4 linked regions of the Homo sapiens genome follow. The protein of the gene in region 4 interacts with the protein of the main gene of each other region in a pairwise test. Each region holds a gene or a part of one and is shown on either strand. Other genes may lie near its edges.

What was found. Proteins that work in one complex are often made in the same cells at the same time.
Region 1: the proteins of CNOT4 (region 4) and UBE2E3 interact in a two-hybrid assay, tested with the Homo sapiens proteins (3 studies listed by BioGRID and IntAct).
Region 2: the proteins of CNOT4 (region 4) and UBE2W interact in a two-hybrid assay, tested with the Homo sapiens proteins (one large-scale study listed by BioGRID and IntAct).
Region 3: the proteins of CNOT4 (region 4) and UBE2D4 interact in a two-hybrid assay, tested with the Homo sapiens proteins (one large-scale study listed by BioGRID and IntAct).

Annotation. Positions count from the first base shown.
Region 1 is NC_000002.12:180,986,686-180,990,673, reverse strand, and holds part of UBE2E3 (ubiquitin-conjugating enzyme E2 E3), read right to left. Parts: intron 3,337-3,988; coding exon of another isoform or gene 3,280-3,336; intron 1-3,279. UniProt on the Homo sapiens protein: Accepts ubiquitin from the E1 complex and catalyzes its covalent attachment to other proteins. In vitro catalyzes 'Lys-11'- and 'Lys-48'-, as well as 'Lys-63'-linked polyubiquitination.
Region 2 is NC_000008.11:73,805,794-73,809,781, forward strand, and holds part of UBE2W (ubiquitin-conjugating enzyme E2 W), read right to left. Parts: intron 1-3,988. UniProt on the Homo sapiens protein: Accepts ubiquitin from the E1 complex and catalyzes its covalent attachment to other proteins.
Region 3 is NC_000007.14:43,939,517-43,943,504, forward strand, and holds part of UBE2D4 (ubiquitin-conjugating enzyme E2 D4), read left to right. Parts: intron 1-1,378; exon of another isoform or gene 1,379-3,309; coding exon 3,310-3,341; exon of another isoform or gene 3,342-3,437; coding exon 3,438-3,515; exon of another isoform or gene 3,516-3,988. UniProt on the Homo sapiens protein: Accepts ubiquitin from the E1 complex and catalyzes its covalent attachment to other proteins. In vitro able to promote polyubiquitination using all 7 ubiquitin Lys residues, but may prefer 'Lys-11' and 'Lys-48'-linked polyubiquitination.
Region 4 is NC_000007.14:135,500,007-135,503,994, forward strand, and holds part of CNOT4 (CCR4-NOT transcription complex subunit 4), read right to left. Parts: intron 1-3,988. UniProt on the Homo sapiens protein: Has E3 ubiquitin ligase activity, promoting ubiquitination and degradation of target proteins. Involved in activation of the JAK/STAT pathway. Catalyzes ubiquitination of methylated RBM15.

The DNA.
Region 1 (3,988 bases), on a different chromosome or scaffold from region 4:
TAACTGGCACAAGACCTAAAAGAAATAAAATACTGCTGTAAGCATTTCTGGCCTCAGAAGACCATAATTTAGCAAGTACTCAAGGTAGTCATTCCTGTGGTTTCACATAAAAAATAACACACACGTATGACAAATAATATAAGACATATGTAAACTACGCATAGAAGTAGCAGGAAGTGAAGAATCAGCTGAGGAAGGTGTAGGTGAATATATTAAGGATGCATCACTAATAAGACAGGAAAACAGTCAAAAGCAAACTATTCAAAAATTCAAGAGGCAAAGTACAGGAACAAATATCTATAGGAGGGTCTCTCAACTTCAGCACTAGACATTTTGGCCCAGATAATTCTTTATTGTGGGGGTCTGTCCTATGTATTACAGGGTATTCAGCAGTACCACTGACGTCTACCTACTAATGTCAGTGGTAGCCCCCTTCTCCTTCAGTTATGAAAAGCAAAAAATATCTCTGGGCATTACCAATTGTCGCCTAGCCTGGTGGCTGGGGAAGGGGAGGACAAAAATTGCCTCAGTTGAGAACCACTGATCAAAAGGCAAAAGAAAGGTTAAAAGTTTGAAGATGTTTCAGCTTCCAGATTCCAATTAAAATGCCCAAATATACTTACCTGTCAAAATTGGTATGTGGAAAAAAAAATCACTTTCTATTTCTCTAGATTTACAAGTGATTTTATTATGTTTTTATCTCATATTGATAGGGAAGAAGAGACTGAAAGGACAAGTTCTTCATTCTCAATCTGAATGTCCTTACACTCTATGCAAGACTTGCTGATTTTCCTGAAAAGTAAACATATCCATCTGTTGTTACAGCAACTCATTTAAGGAGAGCATAAAGTACTAATTGGTTATGAGAGGAATATGACTGGTTATGTGAGCATGTAGCTGCGAAGTAAACATATAACTTTTTTTAAAAGCACATGCTGTTTTACCCACCTTCTAATTACATTATCTGCATTGAACTTAATAGATCCTTAATAAAAATGTGAAGTTTAGTGGGAAGAATATTATTTTCAGTTGGTCACTCTTTTGGAAAATGTTTCCAGTCACACAGAGTACTGAGTATTTCTGCTACACTGGCACGTATGGAGGAAATAACTAGGCCTACTGTGAGTATCAATTTCCTCTTATAAGCAAAAACAGTAGCTAGGTAAACTTTGAATAGGTTATTAAATATTAAGTATCATAATTATGAAAAAGGTAAAGAATGTATAGGATATTTAATAAATTTTCTCTGAAGTCATTGTTTTGCCTGGAATTGCTATTTCTATGTCAATTTGAGAGACTTCAATTTATTTATTAACAGACCTTCACATGCAAAGCACCATGTGAAGTAAGGAAAAGATACAAAAATGAATGAGACAATCTCTCCATTCAAGGAACACTCGCTCTTGCAGAAAGCAGACAAATATTATAATACAGCATGAAAAAAGTACTTTATTACAGTTGTGTTGAAGAAACTATTAGCTTGTTGAAAAATAAAACGTCAATTTGCTTTGATCATAAACCATTTAAAATTATCACTAACGCCCAAGTCCCCAGAAAAACCCTCATGATTTTTGAGGTTTATGCTGATGCCAAAATGAATTTATTAACAATAAAACTAATAATACAAACTATCTGTAGATGACCACCCACGGCATAATGGGATGAAAAATACTTTGTCAGAGTAGTTCTGTATTTATCTGTTTTACAGTCGAGCTTCCAATTAAGATTTAATTTTTATAAAAAGCGGGTTCCAGGACCTTTTTTTTTGAAGAATTGAAAATAAAAGGACTAGATAACTAATGAGATACAATCTTGTAGCAAACACTAAAACAAAAACAATCAAATGTATTAAGTAAAGAAGAAAAAGCAGTCTATCTACATGTGTGAGAGAGTTTAAAACCAAGTACTCTATAAGCAACCAACAAAGCTAATATAGGGATCACATGTTATTTCAATTATTACCTGCTTTCATACGCCAATTAGAAAAAAGCTTTCAAAATTTCTCCTTAGTTCACAGACATGGAAAGAATGCTATGGGGTTAGGTAATGCAGGTAACAGCAATCCAGAATGTGAATTTTACAACTGCTGATATAATCCCATTCACAGTAAAATCACAAATTCTTCTATTTTAAAAGGGGAAAATATAATCATTACTCATCTAAAAATTGTTTATTATACTTTACTGGACAATCATAATATTCTCTATTGAATTAAATATCATTAATCTTATGCATGTTCCTTTAAAAGGAATACAATATTTGTTCATCTATGCCTGAAGTTTTTAGGCTAATTTTCTTTTTTACGCAAGTTCCTAGGAACTGCTTTTACTGACATTAAAAAACAAATTGCTTGTTATGTACTTGTACTCAATTATCTGGTGAACTGACTAAGATAAAATTACATAAGATGTCAATGCACTAGAGAAAATGCCAGCAACAGTGAGAGCACATCACTACAGGCTACACTGTCTCTCCCATTTTTATCTTGCTGTGGCCACTTTACTGACTCGATTTACACTGCTACAAAACTTAAACACATTAAGTCATTTAATCCTCACAATAACCCTATTATAAAGGGGGGTATCATTTTAATCCCCACTTTACAACTGAGGAGAAGAACCGAAATATTCCAAAATGTATCTAAGGTAATAACATAGCAAGTTAGTGACAGAGCATGGATCTGAAACCAGACAGTCTTGCTCCAGTACCAGCACTTTTCAAACCTACTTATATATACAATTCACCAGGAATCTTGTTAAATTCAAATTCTGGGTTGGGGGTTGGGGGAAGCAAGAGTCTGCATTTCTAACAACCTCATCTGTGACGCAGATGCTGACAGTCAGCAGCTCACTCTTTTAAGTAGCAAAGTTCTAGTCCGCCCTAGAAAATGATGGAAAGTGGTAGCAACCCTCAGAAGAAAGCAGAATTTATCCTCAGACAATTAGGCTAATGAGGAATCTAGAGATTATCAACTACTGGTTTAGAAACAACTGCTTCTTTTATGATTTCATTATTTTTTTATTTTTAAAGAAGAAAGTCAACGAAATCACCTGATCTCAGGTTTTGCTAGTCAATATATTAATACTATTAACTTGAAACTGTAATACATATCCCCCAATATGGCCTTTCCCACATCAAGAAACTATTTATTAATACAAATACCCCCAAATATCTCCAGTATAGATTCAATCTGAACATACACTCTTAAAATATTCGTCAGTATATTTGTGCTTCTTCCTATATGGAAAGAAATTAGGGGTTAAGTTAGAAATCCAGTACCTTTCTAAACTTTCGCTGTTTGCACAAGTGGTGACTAGGAGAGGACAAGGACACCCTCTGGGAAACAGATGGAAAGTAAATGTCTTAATAACACATCACTAAACAATTCTAGTCAACAATTCTCAATAAATACAAATAGGGAAATGCCCATAACACAATTTCCCTTGACTCTCATTGATGTATAAATTATTTATACTTTATGTAAACAGCATAAACTGAAACCAATAAATAAACATATCCCTATGTTTAGTACACTATGGCCCATGGCCCTCCAATACCTAAAACCATTTAAAATAACATCAAATCACTGGAAATAACGTCATTATCAAACTTTTACACTATCGGGAAAAGAAATATCAATGCTATCAAAATATATTAAAACATGTATAAAGCCATACACAATTCAATTAAATCTATCTTAAGATCACCCTGGGTATGTATGTACTAGACATAACTATATACTAATTAAAGAATATTTCATTAATTAAAACACAGGAAGGGATTTTAGAGAAATCATCCCAGTCTGAATAATTTTGGTTTTGCTGAGTTTTCTTGTGTTTCATTCAACTTTTTCCTGAATGTACACAGATATACTTTACATTTCTTCCCTGAGGAAGAATTAAATCTGTCATGTACTTTGACAAGCTTGTAAAAATCATATTCAAAACTGTAATGGAATTCTGATTAAATAACTACACACGAAAGCCAA
Region 2 (3,988 bases), on a different chromosome or scaffold from region 4:
AGCTTAAGAAAAATTAACAGAATGCATAAAAAACAATATAAACATGAATAGTATATCTAAAAGAATAAAAACTATAAATGTATTCCAGGAAATGTGTATGCTTAACACCTAAATTTAAAAAAGGAATAATAAGCGTGTTTGAGTGTGGTCTGTGTTAGGTTCTAGCCTGGCCAACATGGTGAAACCCAGTCTCTACTAAAAATACAAAAAAATTAGCTGGGCATGGTGGTGCGTGCCTGTAATCCCAGCTACTTGGGAGGCTGAGGCAGGAGAATTGATTGAACCCGGGAGGCAGAGGTTGCAGTGAGCCAAGATTGTGACATTGCACTCCAGCCTGACAACAGAGCGAGACTCTCGTCTCAAAACAAACAAACAAAAAATTAAATAAATTATAAAGGGAATGAAAAAGGACTGATGAGAAAAGTCAAATTCACATAATAATTTAAACATAGCCGGGCGCAGTGGTGGGCATCTGTAATCTCAGGTACTTGGAAGGCTGAAGCAGGAGAATTGCTTGAACCCAGAAGGTGGAGGTTGCAGTGAGCCGAGATGGTGCCACTGCACTCCAGCTTGGGTGACAGAGTGAGACTCCATCTCAAAAAATAAATAAATAATAAAACAAAGGGCCAGGCGCGGTGGCTCACGCCTGTAATCCCAGCACTTTGGGAGGCCGAGGCGGGTGGATCACGAGGCCAGGAGATCGAGACCATCCTGGCTAACACGGTGAAACCCTGTCTGCTAAAAATACAAAAAAAAAAAAAAAAAAAATTAGCCGGGCGTGTTGGCGGGCGCCTGTAGTCCCAGCTAACTCAGGAGGCTGAGGCAGGAGAATGGCGTGAGACTGGGAGGCGGAGCTTGCAATGAGCCGAGATTGCGCCACTGCACTCCAGCCTGCGTGACAGAACCAGACTTCGTCTCAAAACAAAACAGAAAAGTCTACTAAACTAGATTTGTTGGGAGAAGTATAGCAATGTACAAACCTCCACAAAGAACTGTTTTTACTGTAATAGAATACCATCAAAGATAGACCAGAAGATTCAGTTTCTAAACAATATTTAAGAGAAAAAATGGGAAAAATATATATTGGCATTTCTACTATAATTGGCCTTTCTGCTGAACATATGCCCTGACTAGAACAATATATGAGAAATATATGGCAGCTCCGCAAGGGAGCTACCGCAGATAAAGTGATGCCAACAACACTGAAGATATATTATGGAAGAGACTTTTCCTGAAATTTGTTGCATACTGCCTAGACAAAAGAAAATGTTACCCTCTACAAAGACTTGGAAACATCAAATTTATATTAAAGCTATATTAAAGTTTATAGATACTATGATAGATATCCTTATCCTTTAGTCTCCTTTATGCCTTTCGGAATCATTCCAATAACTTGATTATTTTCCTATCATTAAATATTGTATAGTGTATATGCAGGATTTATTTTCAGACTTAAATCTGCTTAGCTAAGCTAATGAAAATGAGAGATTAAGGGAATCCTCTCCTCTACCTGAGGCTAATGAAAATAAGTGAATTTGGTATGACATCATTTAAGGAAAGTCTAACCAGAAAGCAATCGTGAGTAGGACTCTGTGATAGCAGGAAGGAAAACAGTTAGTCCATTTGGCACTTCTAAAACTCATATATGTAACTATCAGTCTAGTTGAGCCTCACAATGCTCTTATGTGTTAATATTAGTAATTTCATTTAACAAAAAGAAACATTAGAGCATAAGACAGTCAAGACATTTAGGTATTCCAAGTCAATCTGTGGACACAATTTGAGAAAATTCCTAAAAAATGAATATTATGAAATTAGATGCCTGACTACTTCAAGGAAGGGATGATTCTACAAAGTTAAATCTATGTTCATATGGAATTGGTACTACTAGAGCAGATACTTTCACAAACTCATTTTATGTATATGTTGATTAGAACCCAAGAATCATCAGAAAAGTCTTCAAAAAATACATATTTAGAAAAAAGAAATACTCAATTCTATTTGCTTAAATCATTTATCTCCCTGACAAATGATCAGGGAGATACAGTTCTTGGAAAAGAAACTATACAAAAGAAGTCTTACGAAATTGTTTTAGGAATGGGATACAAACTGAAAAGTTTGAACAATGTAAATATATTACAAAGGCATGCAAATAAAGTGGAATTTACTGAAAGTCCTGTGATCTCAATATCAGAAATTATCTTTAATCCACTACAATCTAATGACATACTGGATTTAAATACCTTCAGTTTATGGAACCACTCCTGACTGTGTAAAAGGAAATTGGAATAGAAGAATTATGACTAAAGTCCCAAACACCTAAAGTAAAATATTTAATAGTAGTAGAATTAACAAAGTAAAGCCCATAGAACCATGTCCACTACGGAATAAAATTTACCCGTTTTAATAATAATAAAACGTGTAGATGGGTATTTAAAATACTTTTCTTTTTTCTTTTTTGAGACAGAGTCTTGCTCTATTACCCAGGTTGGAGTGCAGTGGCGTGATATCAGCTTACTGCAACTTCAGCCTCTGGGTTTAAGCAAGTCTTGTGCATCAACCTCCCAAGTAGCTGGGACTACAGGCATGCGCCACCACGCCCAGCTAATTTTTCTATTTTTAGTAAACAGGGTTTAGCCATTTTGCCTAGGCTGCTCTTGAACTCCTGGCCTCAAGTGCTCCACCCTTCTCGGCCTCCCAAAGTAGTAGGATTACAGGCGTGAGCCACTGCACCTGGCCTAAAACACTTTTTAAGGTTTCTTTGGAGCTTAGATCTCTCTAATGCCAGATCGTCTCAATGCCAAGGCAAATTTCCTCTTCATCTTTGTAACTTATCACTTAGCACAGTAAAAGTAGCACATACTAGGTACCTAGTAAATGTTTTTTGAATTTTATCGTATTTCATGGAAATCTTGATTTCTGTATTATCATCTTGGTTAAATATTATACAACTATTACAGTAAAAACATAGTTTATTAGTGCTTTAAATGGAATGATTAGTCTTATACTAAGTGTACAAGAAACACTAGTAGCAGACAACTAGAATGTAAGGGGAATGGTGAGGGTTAGAGGAAGATGAAGGAAGTACACAGAATATAGTCATTCTCTAGTTTTTAATAATAAATCATTATATTTAAATGTAAATAAAATCTAATAATCATGAGGCACATGCAAGACTATGTACAGATATCGCTGACATTAATCTCTTAATAACTTTCTTATTAAATACTGTTGTTACCGTCTCACCTTTCTATAGTCTTTAAGCGTAACAGGAACATAGAAGGCCTTGTACCCACAAACTGCTTTGCCCTACACATAAAAGTTTAAAACGTGTGTGTGTGTTGGGGGTGGGTGAGAGGAGAAAATATAACAGCAATAAGCAACAAATGAGTAAAAAAACAAAACAAAACCAATTTAACCTATTATTTCACATGCTGTGGCTTAGAGTGCTTCAGATTCTAAATAACCTATCATTAAAAAATGAACTATTATCTTAAAAGTTCTCCAAATACTAATTTAATAAAAATGACAATCAGTTCAATTTGGAGAAAAGGAAAGAAAACTGTAAAACACAAATAACTCCCTAACCTCTAGGGCAAAGCTGTTTCTCCTTTAAACAGAATGCAAAAGGAAAACCCTCATAGGGATTTAAGAGGGGTTTTAAAATGTAGAAATACATAAATGTTATGCTATACTAACCCTTAAGCAGGAATGACAAGAGTGTCAGAAGTGTACAGAGGATTCAGATACATTTAAAGGGTATCCTAAATTTATATGTATATTTTAAATTTATTTCATTATTATTTTCTTGAGATGGAGTCTCGCTCTGTCACCCAGGCTGTAGTGTAGTGGCATGATCTTGGCTCACTGCAACCTCCTGGGTTCAAGCAATTCTCCTACCTCAGTCTCCTGAGTAGCTGGGATTACAGGCATATACCATCACACCCAGTTAATTTTTGTATTTTTAGTAGAGACAGGGTTTCACCAT
Region 3 (3,988 bases), about 92 Mb from region 4:
CATAGGAAAATAGGTGGGGAGGGGAGATACTATGTGTTCAAGGAGAGTGGTGTCAGAGGTACATATACCAAAGAATCAAAAACAGAGTGAGACAGAATGTGTATGCCAATGTTCACGGCACCATTACTCATGATTTTCAGAAGCTGGTAACAACCCAAGTGCCCATCAGTGGATGACAGATAAACAAAATATGGTTCTGATACACATTACAACATGAAAACATCCCAAGTGAAATAAGCCGGAAAGAAAAGAATGAATATATGATTCCACTTACATGAAATATCTAGACTAGGCAAATTCATAGAGACAGACGGTAGATGAGAGATTACCTGAGGCTGATGGGGGGTGGAAATAGGAGAAATATTGTTTCATGGATACAGAATTTGTTGGGGGTGATGGAAAGCTTTAGAAATGGATGGGGGTATGGTTCTACAGCATTGTGAAGGCATTTCATGCCACAGAATTGTACACTTTAAAGTTGTTTAAATTGCATATTTTATTATATATTTTTAACTACAATAAAAAGAAATTTCACAAAGCTGGAAAAAAGGAGGGCATGGCATCATATGTGTGCCTGCATGTCCTGGGAGGGGACTGAGCTTAGAGGAGCCAGCGGTAGGCAGATGGAGCCACTGAAAATGGAGGACTCTAAAGGCTTTATGTGGGAGTTTAAATCTCATTTCTGGAGCAGAGCAGAAATGTTTCCCAGCTGCCTATGCAGAGTGTAAGAAACAAGAATGACTCTGCTCCACTGTCTCCTGGTACCTGCTCATCACTCTGCTCCCCACTAATCAGTGTTTACCTCATGTCGTCCTCACAAGCACCCCAGGTCTCCATAGCATGCTTCCCCTCTTACCTGTCACTTAAGATAATATCAGATTAAACTGGGGTCGCTGTAAGCTTGAACTAGTTCTTGTTTAGCCTTACCTGTCTAGAGGCAGCTCCTTGATGCTCAGCTCAGCTCAAATTTACCTTGCACCAGAGCCCAGTGCTAAGAGAGGCTAGCATCAAGGCTAGCCACCACAGTCAGACCTCAGTGGATGAGGTTCAGACAGCACTGGAAGCTAGCCTTTGGGGCCATTTCACACCCGCCTCATGGGCTCACAGCCATTTCCAGCATCCCTCCTGTATATCCTTTCTCGTCCTCTTGCTTTTGGGGCCTTCTCTTCTGACTCTGCTCTCAAGCACTGCTTAGTGTCCCAGCAGCCCTCAGGGTTAAAGTGAACAAGACCAGAGGATTCTAACCTTCCGTTCTGAAATATATTATCAAAACACTTTTATTTAATAAAGAATTCCATTCACATTAATGTTAGGCAAAATATGTCTACTTTCAACTAACGATTAGCATGAATTGGAATAAAAACAGTCAAAAGCAAAAAAAAGTGATATTTTTATTAACTCAGGCAGGCTTATTACAGGTAAAGGTGTTCTTTTCAGCACCATTTCTTTGAAATATTGAAAAGGGCTCATGGGCCACCTTGACTACTTTTGAACACCTCTAGGGGCTTGGGAAACTTCTGCTTTAGTCCCTGCACTTGTGCTCCCACCCCAAACCTTGGTGCTTTCCTAGGCCTCCTGTTGTGTAGAGCCTGTGGGGTACTTAAACAGGTGACAGGAAACCCAGGACAGGACCAGGTCTGAAACTCTGGGCTAATTCCATATCTACTATGAATCCATATGAGACAGAATTCTCTTGGTAATAACAGGCCCTTCAGATGATCCCAGCAACCCACTCCTGTGGGTGAGTAGGCATTTTCCACCAAGGCCCTAGAGTCAATATCCCTGGGACCATTTGTATGACTTGGGAGCCTTGAATGTGAGTGTTTGGGCCATACTGGGCTAGCCTTGCTGATACACAGGAGCTTTTCTGGGAATGGGTAGAGCAGTGAAAGTCACCTGAGATGCTGGAGAGGGTGTGATGTGCAGCAAGAGGGGGCTCTAAACTCTCACCAAATGGTGGTGACCTGGAAGGGAAGCATGAGAGGGGCTCATCGTGACCTTGTTACTGAGTGCCTAGAGCACAGGGCACTGCCCAGGGGTTGGGCAGGAGAGGACTCAGATGAAGGCAGCACCCTTGAGGCTCCAGGGCCACGGGCAGTTGGCTCCTGAGAGACACTCTTTGAAGAGGGCTTCACAATGAATCAGGAGAAGAACCAAGGAATAGAAGGGTTTATAAAGAGCAATAAGGAAAATGGCTGAAGCCTAGCCAAGGCTTAATTCTGTGCAAAGAACTGACTGAATTGTAGTTACTGGCATTTGTGTAGTAAAGAATTTAATCTTGGCTAAGCACAGTGTCTCACGCCTGTAATCCCAGCACTTTGGGAGGCTGAGGCTAGCAGATTTCTTGAGCCCAGCCTGGGCAACATGGTAAAACCCCATCTCTACAAAACAATAACAACAAAAAGAATTTAATCTTGTCCCCAAAAGATCTGGCCTTCATCCTTAACACGTAGGGGGCGATCTGTAAGATACCATACCTGATAGGAATGTCTTTGTTTGGCTGGAAGCTTTAATGCACACCAACAATGTGATTTAGGGTGAGGAATGGCCATACCAAGTAGACCAGCCATGTGATTTCAGGTGAGAGCCTAGCCCGGGCAACATAGCAAGACCCCATCTCTACAAAAATGAAAAAATAAAAGTAAAAAAATTAGCCAGATGTGGTGGCACACACCTGTTGTCCCAGCTCCTCAGGAGGTTGAGGCAGAAGGATAGCTTGAGCCCAGGAGTTTGAGACTGCAGTGAGCTATAATCATGCCACTGCCCACCAGCCTGGGTGGCAGAGTGAGACCATCTCAAAAAACTAAAAAATAAAATAAGGTGGGGGCTTGGATCATGCCTGGAGGAGCTGGAGACTGGAGCCTGAGATCAGTCCTATGGGCATTCAAATAAGTCAGTCATGCTCTCAGGGTGGAGCTCCAATGAGAATTCTGAATACGGAGGCTCCAGTGAGCATTCCTGATTGGGTGTTCTGTGTGTGTTGCCATACAGCAATGCCAGGAGAGTAACACATCCTGACTCCACGGAGAGAGAAGAATAGAAACTCTGCGTTTGGACCCTCCTGATGTTAACCTATGTTGTTTCCCTGTGATAACCAGCAATCTTAAGCACAACCACTTTCAGTGAGCTCTGGGAGTCCTAGGCAGTTATTGCATCTTGGGTGGTTTGGGGAACCCCAGTCTTGCAGTTGGTGTCAGAAGTGAGTGCATCTTGTGTAGACAGTGCGCTGTAATTTAGCAGTGCGTTTTCAGTAGAATGACATGTTTCTTGGGGGGTCTCTTACATGCCCGTCTCTCTTTTGTTTTGTAGTGTTCCACTGGCAGGCCACCATCATGGGCCCGGTAGGTAGTAGCTGCTGAGCGCACCACTCCAGTTTTGCTTCTTGCACTTTGGGCTTAGCACATGCACTGATCTCTTTCTGTGTCTCATCCTTCCAGAATGACAGTCCTTACCAAGGAGGTGTTTTCTTCCTGACCATCCACTTTCCTACAGATTACCCGTTCAAGCCCCCAAAGGTGAGGTCCCTCTCCCAACTCCCCTGATGTTTGGATGAAGGACAGCATGTGACAAGGGGCCCTTCAAGTCAGGTATAGGTAAAAAGAGCTGTACGTGGGGTTTCTCTGAGGGCCCACTGCTCCACCCTGTGGTGAGAGTTTCCCAGGACTTTAATTACTGGACTTTGGGAATTAGCACCTGTTGTGATCAAGGGTCAGTGGGGTGAGCTGGTGCTGGCCTTACTGAGGCCACAGTTTGAATGCTTCTCCTTGTGACTGTAGCTGAGTCTGGTCATGTCTCCAGGCTCTGGCTCCCTTCTCTGCAGTCCCTTAGAGTTAGGACAGGGGTTCTCAGCCGGGGTGATTTTGCTACTGCCCCAGGGACATTTGAGCAACATCTTAGGATATTTTGGGTTATCAAAACCGTGGTGAGGGAGTACTACTGGTATCTAGTCGGCAAAGGCCAGGGTATTCCAGGGATTCCCTGCAGTGCA
Region 4 (3,988 bases):
GGATAGAGGCGATGCCAACGAAAAACAGATTATTTCCCAATAATGTACTATGTTGCATCATCTTAATCACTATTTCCCAAGTCACTAAAAGGTTCATGGCATTATGATAGGTCCTATATTTTATAATAACAATAAAGAAAATGGTAAAATTAAGTTTAATTTTAAAATTATAAGCACAGTTGAGATGTTTTCAGACTCAACTGTGGGAAACTTTGAGATCCACATGCTACATACAGTAGAGGAATACCTGAGACATTGAAGGAAGCATGAAGATAATAAGTGGCAATACAGTATTATTCATCTACCTCATTTACAAAGCGAGAAACAAGAAACCTACTTTTTTCCCCCAGCTTTAAAATAAAATGTAAAATTTTCCTTCACAAAACAAAGTATGCTATCCAGAAATACACAACAGATCCAGAAAGTTGGCTTAATGCAGGGTCTACAAACCAAAACAAAGAATTTTAAAAAAACTTCAAAGTTCACAGAACTTAAAAAAAAAATTCCAACCAAAACATATACGGCTGATGTTTAACCAGACCTGTTTTTTAATATTACCTGTGCAAAACAAAGATATCGAAGTAAATGAAAGGATAAGTTTTCATTTCACAATCTCCCTGTATACTTCCTCAGCCTGCGGACCTACCTTTATTCATCCTTAAAGGGAGTTGGTAGCTAGAAATATTTAATGCCCTACTTCATCAGAATTTTCTTTAGCTCTGATCAGGCCATTATTAAAGTCATCCAGTAATATTTACTGGTTATAGCTATTCAAATGTGAGTAGTCTCCTAATAACCGTTCTGAACTAATATACACATAGGAAGCAGGTAAGGCCTAAATTTCTCTTTTACAAATGAAGTATGTTCATTTCTCTTACTGTAATAAAGATAATATTTCTTTATTTTCCAAGCTCCTATTCTCCAGTGAATATCTTTAAAATCATTCAGAAACACTGGTAGCTATTTTCTACTAAACCTTTTTTTTTTTTTTTTTGGAGACAGAGTTTCATTCTGTAGCCCAGGCTGGAGTGCAGTGGTGCCATCTTGGCTCACTGCAACCTCCGCCTCCCGGGTTCAAGCAATTATCCTAGCCTCAGCCTCCCAAGTAGCTGGGATTACAGGGGCACACCACCATACCTAGCTAATTTTTGTATTTTTAGTAGAGACGGGGTTTCACTATGTTGGCCAGGCTGGTCTCAAACTCCTGACCTCAAGCAATCCTCCCACCTCAGCCTCCCAAAGTGCTGGGATTACAGGTGTGAGCCACCACACCAGGCCTACTAAAACTTTTTGAGGCTGTTATTGGAGTAATCATCTATCACTTTCTTCGCAAAAGCTGGGCTTGGATAACAAATTGCAGTTTACTATCAAAGACAAATAGACCACATTTCCTCAGTTCTCTACTCTTCAAAACCTTGGTGTCACTTTAGGGCATGAGGGACTAAAGAGAAGATGGAATCAATTATCTGACAAATCCTGTAGAATTTCCATCCTAACGTCTCTCAGAATAGCTCCTTACCTCAGTGGCTTGGTCTCTAATTTTTCAAACAAACCTCAAGTGTCATCCCCAAAATATGCTGCACACTATTGAACGAGTAATCTTTCTGAAAAACACTCTCATGTTTTCTCCTGCTCCCTATCAACCTCTACTGGCTTCTTATTGCTTAGCAGATTAAATTCAACCTGACACCAATACACCTTTCATAATCTAGCTCTACCCTACTAATACAAATTTATCTGCCACCATTCCCAGTAATTAACACTTTATTCCATTGAGATCAGACTCCTTACATCCCTCTCACATCATGCTAGCCCCTATCAAGTGTTTGCTCATTCTTTACTGTGGTCTAAATGTCTCCTCCACAACGCATATTGAAATTTAATTGCCAGTGTGGTAGTATTAAGAGTTGAGGCCATTAAAAGAGGTGATTAGGCTATGAGGGCTCTACCCTCATCAATGATAATGCCATAGTAATGGAAGTAGGTTCCTGATAAAAAGCAAGTTCTGCCCTCTCTGTTCTTGTTCTCTCACCCTCTCTTGCTCTTCTACCTTACACCATGGGATGACATAGCATGACGGCCCTGCCAGATGCCAGTGCCATGTTCTGGTTCTTCCCAGTCTCCAAAACCATGAGCCAAATACATTTCTGTCGATTATAATTATCCAGTCTGTGGTATTCTGTTATAGCAGCATAAAATGAACTAAGACATGCTTCCATTCCCTATATAGAACGTACATAATGTTCTCCTTCTGGATATGCTAGCCTATACAAACAGTACACAATCTTTATTCAAGACTCATCTTCTTCAGGAAGCCTCACTCCTAGGACTTTAGTCTGAAGATATCCCTGTACAAACAGACTGGACTCATACTACATGTAGCACACATTATTTGTACACTGCTTTGGACAGTGCTAATTATATCATTATGAAAGTATTCTTGACAAGATAAACTCTACAAAGAAGTTCTGCCAAATTTTCCAAGAAGTGGTTCCATAAGCAAAGTCTGTTTGAAAAATTGATTAAGGCTGGGTGCAGTGGCTCAGGCCTGTAATCCCAACACTTTGGGAGGCCGAAGCGGGCAGATCACCTGAGGTCAGGAGTTCAAGACCAGCCTGGCCAACATGGTGAAACCCTGTCTCTACTAAAAATACAAAAACTTAGCCAGGTGTGGTGGCGGGCGCCTGTAATCCCAGCTACTGAGGAGGCTGAGGCAGGAGAGTTGCTTGAACCCGGGAGGTGGAGGTTGCAGTGAGCCAAGATCATACCACTGCACTCCAGCCTGAGCAACAAGAGCAAAACTCCATCTCAAAAAAAAAAAAAAAAAAGAAAAAAAGAAAAGTTGATTAAATAATCCTGATTTTGGCAGGGCACAGTGGCTCACGTCTGTGATCCCAGCACTTTGGGAGGCTGAGGCAGGTGGATCACCTGAGGTCAGGAGTTTGAGACCAGCCTGGCCAACATGGTGAAACCCTGTCTCTACCACAAATATAAAAATTAGCTGGGCATGGTGGCACACGCCTGTAGTTCTAGCTACTTGGGAGACTGAGGCAGGAGAACCGCTTGAACCCAGAAAGCAGAAGTTGCAGTGAGCCGGGATGGCACCACTGCCACTTTAGCCTGGGTGACAGAGTCGGACACCATCTCAAAATAAATAAATAAAGACATTTTATTATATCACAGCATAGTGGCTCACACCTGCAATCCCAGCACTTTGGGAGGCTGAGATAAGAGGATCACTTAAGCCCAGAAGTTTGAGACTACCCTGGGCAACAGGGTGAGCCCCCATTTCCACAAAAAATAAGAAAATTAGCTGGGCATGGTCCTGTGCCTGTAGTCAGAGCAACCTGAGAGGCTGAGGTGGGAGAATTGCTTGAACCCAGGAGTTCAAGGCTACAATGAGCTAGGATCATGCCACTGCACTCCAGCCTGGGCAACAGAGACCATCTCAAAAAAAAAAAGAAAAAAAGTTCTAGTACGAATGAAACAATGTAATGACTAAGATTTGATACTATTTGAAGCTGAGTAACAGGTACATGGTGGTTCATACCTACTTTTGTACTTGTTTAAAAATACCAAAAGTTCCTTTTTAAAAAAGTACTAATAACGTCTTTATATCATTTTAAATGGCAAAACCAAAATATAACATTTTCTTTACCCAAGGAAGACATAGGTCCCTACTGACAGTAAGAAAAATGTGTGCAGAAAGATTTAATGCAGAATCCTAATTCTCATCTAAGAATTAATAAAAGTTAGAGGAAAAAATATAATCAAATAGAAAGGATTTCCATGAAAAGAAAAATTAATCCTAACTACTAAAAGCAACACTGTTTATATTATACAACTTCAATTAGAGCATTCACAAGACGGTCCACCCAAATAACTGATGAAACTTTAAAACTTCAGAAAAAAATCTTAAGCAAAATATGGGAGGCAGAAAATAAAGGGGAAAAAAGGAAAAAAGTTGCTACAACCAATGTTCAATAAC